4 separate regions of the Homo sapiens genome follow, and regions 2, 3 and 4 are each linked to region 1. The links come from fine-mapping of genetic effects on gene expression. A gene starts in region 1. Each other region holds a variant in brackets. All regions are shown on one strand. Distances are from middle to middle. Region 1 holds the start of XPO7 (exportin 7). Region 2 has its middle 35 kb from the start of DOK2. Region 3 overlaps NPM2 (nucleophosmin/nucleoplasmin 2). Region 4 has its middle 3.4 kb from the start of NPM2.

Region 1 (2,685 bases):
AAGGCGACACTTCTTGCCCTCTAATCTTTCCTTGCCACAACACAAAACCTGTGCACTTGGTTACCTAGAAAATTGGAAGGTTCCCCACAATGGATGTGCATCAATAACTGTCATAAAAATATCAGATCTCTGGCACAGACAGGAAAAACTTTATCTAGTTTGCAAGAAATTAAACCCTGCAGTCCTCCATCTGCTACTGGGTTTGGTATGGGCTGTCCCTTTCTAGGGCCTGTGCCTGTCTTTGAGGAGAGTGGCCTGGCCCCACAGCACGCTAGGAGCAGCTCTTGAGCCGGATCAAGACCCTCCCGAGCAACGTCTGCACCCAACCCTGCATCTCTCATTTCAGACACACCCCCCTCCACCCCGTGTTTCATAGGAGGTGTGGGCGCTCAACTCCTTCACTGTGGCTAGGGGGACGCGAGGGGAGGCGGGCCGAGGCCTGAGCACCCATTTTGGAAGACCGGGGAGCTCGGCCCTCCGGGCTGTACGATTTGGAGTGTCGGAGGGAAGGGCGCATCCGTGGGAGGGGGAAGGAGGCCGGGGTTGCTGGGGGGTCTCTCGTATTCCGGGGCGTGAGAGGAAGGCGGCGGGAAAGACTCCGGAGAGCGAGGTTTATCAGCGCGAGGTTTCCTTTTTGTTATCTGCTGAGGGATGGCGGGCGTCATGGGGGCGTCCCCCTCAGTAAAGTCAGCAAGGGGGTCCCCCTCGCTTCACCGGGGGGCGGGCGGGGGGGCCCGAGGACTTGACGGAGGCCTCCCCCGGGGACGAAGACAGTGACTGACGAACGTTGTGGGCTGCGCGCGCCGGGATGCCCGTTCCTGTCCCTGCAGCCCCGCGCGCGAGGTGTGGGACCGGGTGGGAGGGGACGGAGAAGGCCCCCGGCCCGGGAGGCGGGAAAGGCCCCGGGGCTCCGGGACGGGCGGCGGCTCCAGAGCCCCGAGTGGCGGCGGCGCGGGCCTGCCGAGTCCCGAGCCGGCTGGCGCCCTGTGGGCCGTGTGCACCCCCGACTCCACTCGCCGCTCTTCGTGGTCGCCCCCTCCCCCCCGCGGCTCCTCTCACCTGCACATGATCCGCCATTTTGCTCCATTCATGCTCCTCTCCGGCCCCCCCTCCCCCCCAGCGCGCACCTCGGCCGGAGCCGCTGCCGCCGCCGCCGCCGACGCCGTCGCCGCTGCGCCTGCGCGCTGGGGACTCGTCGCGCTGCGCTCGTGGCGTAGCGCCGCTCAGCTGCGCAGGCCCCGGCGGCCCGGGCCGTGGTTGGAGAATGCGCAGCACCGCTGGGACGGCGTAAAGGCGCGGGCAACGTCAGCGGCCCGGAGACGCCGGGTGGGAGGAAGGAGCGGGCCGGGGGAGCGCGAAGGAGGGGCAGCTGGGGGAACAAAGCTTTGTTTACATGGTTTTTAAAGGGGCCGCGCTCGCTCCGGCAGGCGGGCGCTGGAGTGGGAGTTGGCGCTGCCTTCTGCTCGTTTGCGTGGTGAGGGCTCCTGGATGGGGGCCGAGGTCTGTCGCCGCCCCGGGACCCCTGCACCCAGTGGCTTCCTCTCTTCCCAACCGTCTTCCCCCTTGACTCGCCCCTGGACGTCTCCCACCCCCACCCCCACCCCACCCTGCAGCTACGGGGACCCCCCACACCCCACCTAGGCTGCCTGCGAGATTCCTTACTTTCCAATGCCCTCTACTCAACGGGGGCCGATTCTGTGCTTGTGTCTGTCTAGCTTTCTGGACCAGGGCCATCGCTCTCTGGTCTGGATTTCACCAGCAACCCCAGTGGTTGATCTCGTGTTTTTCATTTCTGTCCTTTCGTCCTTGATAAACATTCATGGAAATAACCACCGAATGGTGGTGATGATCAAAACATACGAAGGCACAGTTCTGGCTTCCCAAAGACATTGTCCTCGTTGCCAATACTCTAGACTGCCTCCCGAGAGGGTCAGATGCTGGAAGAGGCAGCGGGGCTGGTGGTTAGGACCCCTAGGCTCGGTCTTGTGGAGGTATGAGTGGGAAAGCCATCTCTCTGGGTCAGATAAGGTCAGCCCCTGCATGCTGAGGCCAATTCCAGTCTTCCTCACTAGGAATTATCTGTTAGATAATGCCGGTTCCTGTTTTCCATTGGATTCCACTGTGGCTTCCTTTTAAGGCCCCCAGGTTAGATCATAGCTGGATTCTGAGAGCACTGATTGTTTGAAGTTTGTATTTACAGGGGACTACCATCATATGCAAATGATGGTGGTAGTGAATTACACACCCTTGGTGGATGTAGTGGACCGGTGCTCAGCATTCATTTCGACTTCCGTCCTCCTAGTAGGTCTTCCTGGTTTGCAGAGGTAGGGCACCTGGAAACTACATTACCCAAACTTCCTTGCAGCTAGGGTTCTGTATGCAAATTAGGCTCTGCCAATTAGGCTGACTCAGAGAAGATTTAAGAGGCAGAAGATTTAAGTGGCAGAGCTTTTGACTGTTAACTTCTAGCGAGCATAGACCTTTTCAGATGTTGGGTTTTTGTTTTTCCCCAAAACCTCCCAGCGTCCAATCATTAGCTCCGAGCGTATAAAGAGGCGGGGTGATGGGGTCAGTGGCTTTCTGAACCTGGCATCGGGCAATGAAATATTCTCAGAGTCACAATTGCAATGGAAATTCTTTGGATTCCCTACTGGACTGAATAGAGGTAACAGTTTCACAGTGGGC
Region 2 (2,685 bases), 40 kb after region 1:
AGGCCCCTGCCATCACGCCCAGCTAATTATTGTATTTTTTGTAGAGACGAGTTTCACCATGTTGGCCAGGCTGGTCTCGAACTCCTGACCTTAGGTGATCCACCTGCCTAGGCCTCCCAAAGCCCTGGGATTATAGGCGTGAGCCACTGTGCCTGGCCTCAGATTCACAATCTTATCTGTTATTATCTTTATCAACCTTGCAAGTAAGAGGGCCAGAGGATTCCATGTCAAAGAAGAGGGGATTATAAGAGAAGACTAAGGCCAACCCCTGCGTCACCCACTAGGATCACCCATGTTTCCTCCACTGTGGGCCTAAATGCCTTCTCTGCTGGTTTTCTGAAGCCAGGGAAAAACTCCATAATGAGAAATTCTTGTCTTTGGCTGAAACTTTCAGTCCTTCACGACAAGACCAAATAATCATGGAAAAGATAGCATGGGAGTAATTTCCAGCTTTGTGTGCAGAAGGTTACTAAATCCTTTCCTGATGCCAGGCCTTGGTAGTGGGAGAGTAGAGACAGCGGAGGGTAGTGGGTGCTTCTGCAGAAGGGGTGGGCAAGGAGAAGGCCCTACTGCGGGGTTGGAGGCACTGAAAGCAAACTGTCTAATGCTCAGTTTTGTACAGATCCAGACTCACTCTGTGGTTTCCCTCCTCCCTGACAAGAGGCACAGAGGGAGCATCCTGGCCCAGAGCTGTGCATGGTAAAGACTCACAGTGCCACCTTACCACCATGAGAGAAATGGCAATCATCTGGACTCTGGTCTAACCAGGTGACCAACTTTGGTTGCACTCTCTGTGGGCCTCAGTTTCCCACAAAAATATTGATGGGGCCGGGCGCGGTGGCCCATGCCTGTAATCCCAGCACTTTGGGAGGCCGAGGCAGGCAGATCACGAGGTCCGGAGATTGAGACCATCCTGGCTAACACAGTGAAACCCTGTCTCTACTAAAAATACAAAAACAAAATTAGCTGGGTGTGGTGGTGGGCGCCTGTAGTCCCAGCTACTCGGGAGGCTGAGGCGGGAGAATGGCGTGAACCCGGGAGACGGAACTTGCAGTGAGCCGAGATTGTGCCACTGCACTCCAGCTGGGCGACAGAGCGAGACCCCGTCTCAAAAAAAAAAAAAAAAAAAGACATTGATGGCTTGGGGTTTTATCAATGCTTCCTAGGCATTTGGTTTTTAAATTTTAATTAATTCATTAACTTTTTATTTATTAATTTTTTTGAGACAGAGTCTCTCTCTGTCACAGCCCAGGCTGGAGAGCAGTGGCAGGATCTCGGCTCACTGCAACCTCCACCTCTCTGGTTCAAGCGATTTTCCTGCCTCTGTCTCCTCAGTAACTGGGATTATGGGCGTGTGCCAC[C/A]ACACCCAGCTAATTTTTGTATTTTTAGTAGAGACAAAGTTTCACCATGTTGTCCAGGCTGGTCTTGAACTCCTGACCCCAAATGATCCACCCACCTCAGCTTCCCAGAGTGTTGGGAATATAGGTGTGAGCCACCACGCCTGGCTGGCATTTGATTTTTTACTTTGATCTGTAGTGAGACATGTGTTTTACATTGGGACCTAGTACATACATTCATATTTGTACATGTATATATGGATATATACACATATACATTTGTGTATATACATACACACATAGAGATTTATGCATATATATTTGTGTGGATATTATTTATTTATTTTTATTTTTATTTTTTTTTGAGACAGAGTCTTGCTCTATTGGCAGGCTGGAGTGCAGTGGCATAATCTCGGCTCACTGCACCCTCCGCCTCCCAGATTCAAGCAATTCTCCTGCATCAGGCTCCCGAGTAGCTGGGACTACAGGTGCGCGCCACCACACCCAGCTAATTTTTGTATTTTTGGTGGAGACGGGGTTTCACCATGTTGACCAGGATGTTCTCGATCTCTTGACCTCGTGATCTGTCTGCCTCGGCCTCCCAAAGTGCTGGGATTACAGGCGTGGGCCACCGCGCCCGGCCATGCATATTATTTATATGCTAATCTATCTATTGAACCAAAAGTTGCAAGACTTGCAGTTTGAAAAACAATAGATTAAGTGGTCGATAATGCCCTTTCCGATTCTGATATTTTAGGCTTATTGCTAAGCCAGTCAGTGATTGATTAGTTTCACGTGCAGTTAAAAGTTACAGAGATATGTTTATGTAAAGCCTTTAGCACAGGTCAAGCTCACAGTTAGTGTCCTGTGACTGTTAATTGCTACTTATACTCTCATTTCTCAGGATTGACTTCAGCAACTTCTTCCCTTTGGTTTTTCCCTGTAGGCACTTCTCATTTTCTGCCTGCTGTGTCCTGTAATTTTTGATTGTGAGACAAAAAATTCTCTCTTCAGTCTCTCATCTTTCTCTCCAGGTTTTGTCTTCTGAATCCCTTCCCTTCATGTTAATCCATATTAAAAGCCAAGCTCCAGGTCAACAGGGATCATCCAATCGCCTCTCACCCAACCACAGGCCTCACTGGGCACTTACCTCCTGGGATTGGGCTTTGCAATGATTTTTGACCTTTGAAGATTTTTCTTACTTTTCTACTAGCTCAGCTATGCATTTCCGAAATTCATTTATTTTGAATTTCAAAATTAATGAATCCTTACTGGGAGGATTTTCTGGACATCTAAATTGCCTAGGACCTGAAAATGACAGGTCCTGTAAGTACTTCTCAACAGAGAA
Region 3 (2,685 bases), 110 kb before region 1:
CATATATCTAATTGGAAAAGGGACTAGGGAGACTGGAAGACAGTCAATATTCAAAGGAAAAACAACCAATAATTTTCCAGAATTGATCAAAGACATAGATCCTCATGTCTGAAAACCTAAGTCCTGAACAGACAAAAAAAATAAATCTACACCTGAACACATCATGGTAAAACTATAGAAAATAAAAACAAAAGACATTATCTTAAAATAAGCCAGAGAGGAAAGACATCTCCAAAAAGGGAATAATCAGACAGATTGAGGACTTCAACAGCAACATTGGGAACCAGAATAGAACAGCTTCAAAGCTGAAGGAAACTCTCTATCTAGAATTATATACACAGCCAAACCATCATGAAGGAATGAGGGCAAAATCATGATATTTCCAGACAAAGCCTGAATAAGTTTACTATTCTCAGGCTTACTAAAGTATGTTGCTAAAAAGGATAAGAAATTAGATCAAGAAGGAAGAAGTGGGTGCTAGAAGCAGTGGTAACCAAACTAATTGGTAAACAAAGTAAACCTACATAAGAATTAACTGGAAAATACAATAGTACTAGTAATGAGTAGTGTTGAGTAGGCTGACAAGTTGGAGCTAGAACACTTGATAATAATATTGAAGTTAAAAAGATGAGAATCAGGCCAGGTGCGGTAGCTCACACCTATAATTCCAGCACTTTGGGAGGCCAAGGCAGGAGGATCACCTGAGCTCAGGAGTTCAAGACCAGCCTGGCCAACGTGGTGAATCCCTGTCTCTACTAAAAATACAAAAATTAGCTGGGCATGATGGTGCATACCTGTAATCCCAGCTACTTGGGAGGCTGAGGCAGGAGAATCACTTGAATCACCTGGGAAGCAGAGGTTGCAGTGAGTCAAGATTGCACCACTGCACTCTAGCCTGGGAAACAAAGTGAGACTCCATTTCGAAAATAAAAAAATAAAAAAAGGAGAATCAGAAAAGCTCCTTGGATTGTCTGGGAGGACATAAAACATTAATTCTAAACTTTGAGTAATGTATGATTGTTAAAAAAATTAAAGATAAACAGTAAAAAAATTAGAATGAGATTCTATAACTTCCAAACCAGTAGAGAAGGGGAAAAGGAACTTTAATTAATCTAATAAAATATAGGAAAAGGAGAAGAAAATAAAAAAGCAAGGAAAGTAGGGGTACAAAGTACATGCCACAAATCCAATTACATCAGCAATCACAATGAATACAGACTATACTGGCCAGATAGAACAAAATCTAGCTACATACTGTGTAAAAGATACATACCTGGAACATAAGACATAAAACACACCTGAAACAGAGAGGTTGCTGAGGCCAGAACACAAAGGCTTCGAAGCAGGCCATAATACACTCTCGGCTCTTATTCCAAATGAGAGAGAGCCATGACCTAACTATTCTAGCAGAGAAGCCACATGATCTAACCTGTGTTTAAAAGGATCTTTTTGGCTGGGCATAGTGGCTCACGCCTATAATCTCAGCACTTTGGGAGGCTGAGGCAGGTGGATCACTTGAAGTCAGAAGTTCAAGACCAGCCTGGCCAACATGGTGAAACCCCGTCTCTACTAAAAATTACAAAAAAAAAAAAAAA[T/AT]CAGCTGGGCATGGTGGGGAGCGCCTGTTGTCCCGGCTACTAAGGAGGTGGAGGTTGCAGTGAGCCGAGATTAAGCCACTGCATTCCAGCCCTGGTATCAAAGCAAGATTCTGTCTCAAAAAAAAAAAAAAAAAAAAAAAAAAATCTTTTTGGCAGCTGTGTGGAGCACAGACCAGGAAACTTTCTGTTAAGAGCCAGAAGGTAATATTTTAGGTTTGCAAACCATATGGTCTCCATGGAGACTACTCAAATCTGCTGTTAGGGAGGAAAAGCAGCCATGGACAGGGTACAAACGAATGAGTGTGGCTGTGTTCCCAGTAAAACTACTTACAAAACCAGGCAGCAGCCTAGATTCAAGCCCTCTAGTTTGCCTACCCTGGAATAGACTACAGGGGACCATGTGATGGTAGGTAGACCAGGTGGAAGGCTGTGCAATTAAAATGGAGCCACAGGCAACTGTCACCTGTACCAGGGGTAGCAGGGAAGATGATGAGATGTGGTCCATTGGGGTATAAGATGGGGGCAGAGACAACAGGACTGCTGGTAGATCAGATATGGGTGTGGGAAAAAAGAGGATTTGGCTGGGTGTGGTGGCTCATGCCTGTAAATCCAGCACTTTGGGAGGCCAAGGCGGGTATATCACCTGAGGTCAGGAGTTCGAGACCAGCCTGACCAACATGGCAAAAACCCATCTCTACTAAAATTACAAAAATTAGCCTGGCGTAGTGGAACATGCCTGTAATCCCAGCTACTTGGGAGGCTGAGATGGGAGAATCACTCGAACATGGGATGCGGAGGTTGCAGTGAGCCGAGAGCGCACCATTGCACTCCAGCCTGGGTGATAAGAGTGAAACTCCATCTCAGGGGAAAAAAAAAAAAAAAGAGCTTTGTCTTGGCTAACTGGAAAAACAGCTGTTTTCTGAGAGAAAATCAGGTTGAAGGGGAGGCGGGTGGATTAGAGATAAAAATTGAATATGTGGATTTAGACATGTTAAATTTGGGATATTTATTAGATATCTATCAAAGCCATTTAGTTGGATATAGGACTTGGAGCTCAAGAGAGGTTGAGTTTACAGAAATAAGTTCCTGA
Region 4 (2,685 bases), 100 kb before region 1:
GAGTTCCCTTTTCTGCACATCCTCGCCAGCATTTGTCTTTTTGATAACAGCCATTCTAACTGAGGTGAGATGATATCTCATTGTGGTTTTGATTTGCATTTCTCTGATGATTAGTGATGTTGAGCTTTTTTTTTTTTTTTTTTTTTTTTTTTTTTTTTTTTTTTTGAGACGGAGTCCCGCTCTGTCACCAGGCTGGAGAGCAGTGGTATGATCTTGACTCACTGCAACCTCTGCTTCATGGGTTCAAGCAATTCTGCCTCAGCCTCCCGAGTAGCTGTGACTACAGGTGCTTGCCACCATGCCCAGCTAATTTTTGTATTTTTAGTAGGGACTGGGTTTCACCCTGTTGGCCAGGATGGTCTCGATCTCTTGACCTTGTGATCCGCCCACCTCAGCCTCCCAAAGTGTTGGGACTACAGGTGTGAGCCACTGCACCCAGCTGAGCATTTTTTCGTATGCCTGTTGGCCATTTGTTTTCTTTTGAGAAATGTCTATTCATGTCCTTTGCCCACTTAATATTATGTTTGTTTTTTGCTGTTGAGTCATTTGTATTCCTTGTATATTCTGGATATTAGTCCCTTGTTAGATGAATAATTTGCAAATATTTTCTCCCATTCTGCAGGTTGTCTCTTAACTCTGTTGACTGTTTCTTTGCGGTGCAGACGTTTTTGGTTTAATATAGTCTTATTTGTCTATTTTTGTTTTTGTTGCCTGTGCTTTTGAAGTCTTAGCCATAAAATCTTTGCCTAGACCCATGTCCTGAAGCATTTCCCCTAGGATTTCTTCTAGTAGTTTTATAGTTTCAGGCCTTATGTTTAAGTCTTTAATCCATTTTGAATTGATTTTTGTATGTGATGACAGATGGGGTCTACTTTTCTTCTTCTTATCAATATCCAGTTTTCCCAGCACCATTTATTAAAGAAGATGTCCTTTTCCCAGTGTATGTTCTTGGTGCCTTTGTCAAAAAATCAGTTTGTG[G/A]TAAGTACATAGATTTATTTCTGGGTTCTCCATTTTTTTCCATTGGTCTGTGTCTGTTTTTATACCAATACCATGCTGTTTTGTTACTATAGCTTTGTAGTGTATAATATTTATATTTATATTTGGGGCAGGGTCTTGCTCTATGTCCCAGGTTGGAGTACAGTAGCAATTTCAGCTCACTGCAGCCTCCACCTCCTGGACTCAAGTGATTCTCCCACCTCAGCCTCTGAAGTAGCTGGGACTATAGGTGTGTGCCATAATGCCTGGCTACTATTTTTTTTTTGGTAGAGATGGGGTTTCTCCATGTTGTCCAGGCTGGTCTCAAACTCCTCTGCTCAAGTGATCCACCCACGTTGGCCTCCAAAAGTGTTGGGATTACAGGCATGTGCTTGCCCACCCTGTAGTATATTTCGAACTCAGGTAGGGTGATGCCTCCAGCTCTATTCTTTTTGCTTAGTATTGCTTTGGCTATTTGGAGTCTTTTGTGATTCTATACAAATTTTAGGATTGTTTTTTCTGTTTCTGTGAAGAGTGTCGTTGCTATTTTGATAGGGATTGCGCTGAATCTGTAGATTGCTTTGGGTAGTATGGCCTTTTAAATTTAATTTTATTTTTATTTCTTATTTTAAAAATTTATTTATTTATTTTTCAGGCAGGGTCTCGCTCTGTTGCCCAGGCTGGAGTGCAGAGGCACAATCATAGCTCACTGTAACCTTGAACTCCTGGGCTCAAGCAATCCTCCTGCCTCAGCCTCCTGAGTAGCTGGGACTGCAAGGTGTGTACCACCATGCCTGGCTAATTTTTAAAATTTTTTTGTTGTGTCTCGTTATGTTGCTCAGGCTTGTCTTGAACTCCTAGGCTCAAGTGATCCTCCCTCCTAGGCCTCCCACAGTGCTGGGATTATAGGCACGAATCATCGTGCCTAGCCGTAGTATGGCCATTTTAACAATATTAATTTTTCCAATCCATGAGCATGGGATGTCTTTCCACTTTTTTGTGACCTTTCCAATTTCCTTCATCAGTGTTTTGTAGTTTTTGTTGTAGAGGTCCTTCACTTCCTTGGCTAACTTTTATTCCTTGGGACTTTATTTTTTGTAGCTCTTGTAAATGGGATCACTTTCTTGATTTCTTTTCTATTTTATTATTGGTGTATAGAAATGCTACTGATTTTCATATGTTGATTTTTGTATCTTGCAACTTCACTGAATTTGTTTATCAGTTCTAGGAGTTTTTTCAGTGGATTGTTTAGGCTTTTCTATACATAAGATCATGTCTGCAAAGAGAGACAATTTGACTTCTTCTTTTCCAATTTCTTTTTATTTTATTGTTTTGTTTTATTTGTTTATTTATTTATTTATTTTCTGAGATGGAATTTTGCTCTTGTTGCCCAGGCTGGAGTGCAATGGCACGATCTCGGCTCACCACAATCTCCACCTCCCGGGCTCAAGCAATTCTCCTGCCTCAGCCTCCGGAGTAGCTGGGATTACAGGCATGTGCCACCACACCTGGCTAATTTTGTATTTTTAGGAGAGATGGGGTTTCTCCATGCTGGTCAGGCTGGTCTTGAACTCCTGACCTAAGGTGATCCACCTGCCTCAGCCTCCCAGAGTGCTGGGTTACAGGCGTAAGCCACCGCACCCGGCCTATTTATTTATTTATTTTTGAGGCAGAGTGTCACTCTGTTGCCCAGGTTGGAGTGCAGTGACG

What was found. PIP is the estimated chance that this variant, and not a neighbour inherited with it, causes the effect.
Region 2: its variant is fine-mapped to the expression of XPO7 in whole blood (TOPMed, PIP 0.96).
Region 3: its variant is fine-mapped to the expression of XPO7 in whole blood (INTERVAL, PIP above 0.99).
Region 4: its variant is fine-mapped to the expression of XPO7 in whole blood (TOPMed, PIP above 0.99).

Annotation. Positions count from the first base shown.
Region 1 is chr8:21,918,163-21,920,847 of GRCh38, reverse strand. XPO7 (exportin 7) reads right to left here and starts at 1,186. Exons shown (of 28, transcript NM_015024.5): 1 at 1,060-1,186. The coding sequence starts at 1,077. RefSeq lists a silencer at 830-1,269.
Region 2 is chr8:21,877,770-21,880,454 of GRCh38, reverse strand. No RefSeq gene overlaps it. Among named protein-coding and RNA genes, the nearest start is that of DOK2, 35 kb to the left of the region's middle. The variant C/A (reference allele first, on the strand shown) is at 1,362.
Region 3 is chr8:22,027,396-22,030,080 of GRCh38, reverse strand. All of the region lies in intron 5 of NPM2 (nucleophosmin/nucleoplasmin 2), which reads right to left. Among named protein-coding and RNA genes, the nearest start is that of NPM2, 4.6 kb to the right of the region's middle. The variant T/AT (reference allele first, on the strand shown) is at 1,596.
Region 4 is chr8:22,019,390-22,022,074 of GRCh38, reverse strand. No RefSeq gene overlaps it. Among named protein-coding and RNA genes, the nearest start is that of NPM2, 3.4 kb to the left of the region's middle. The variant G/A (reference allele first, on the strand shown) is at 979.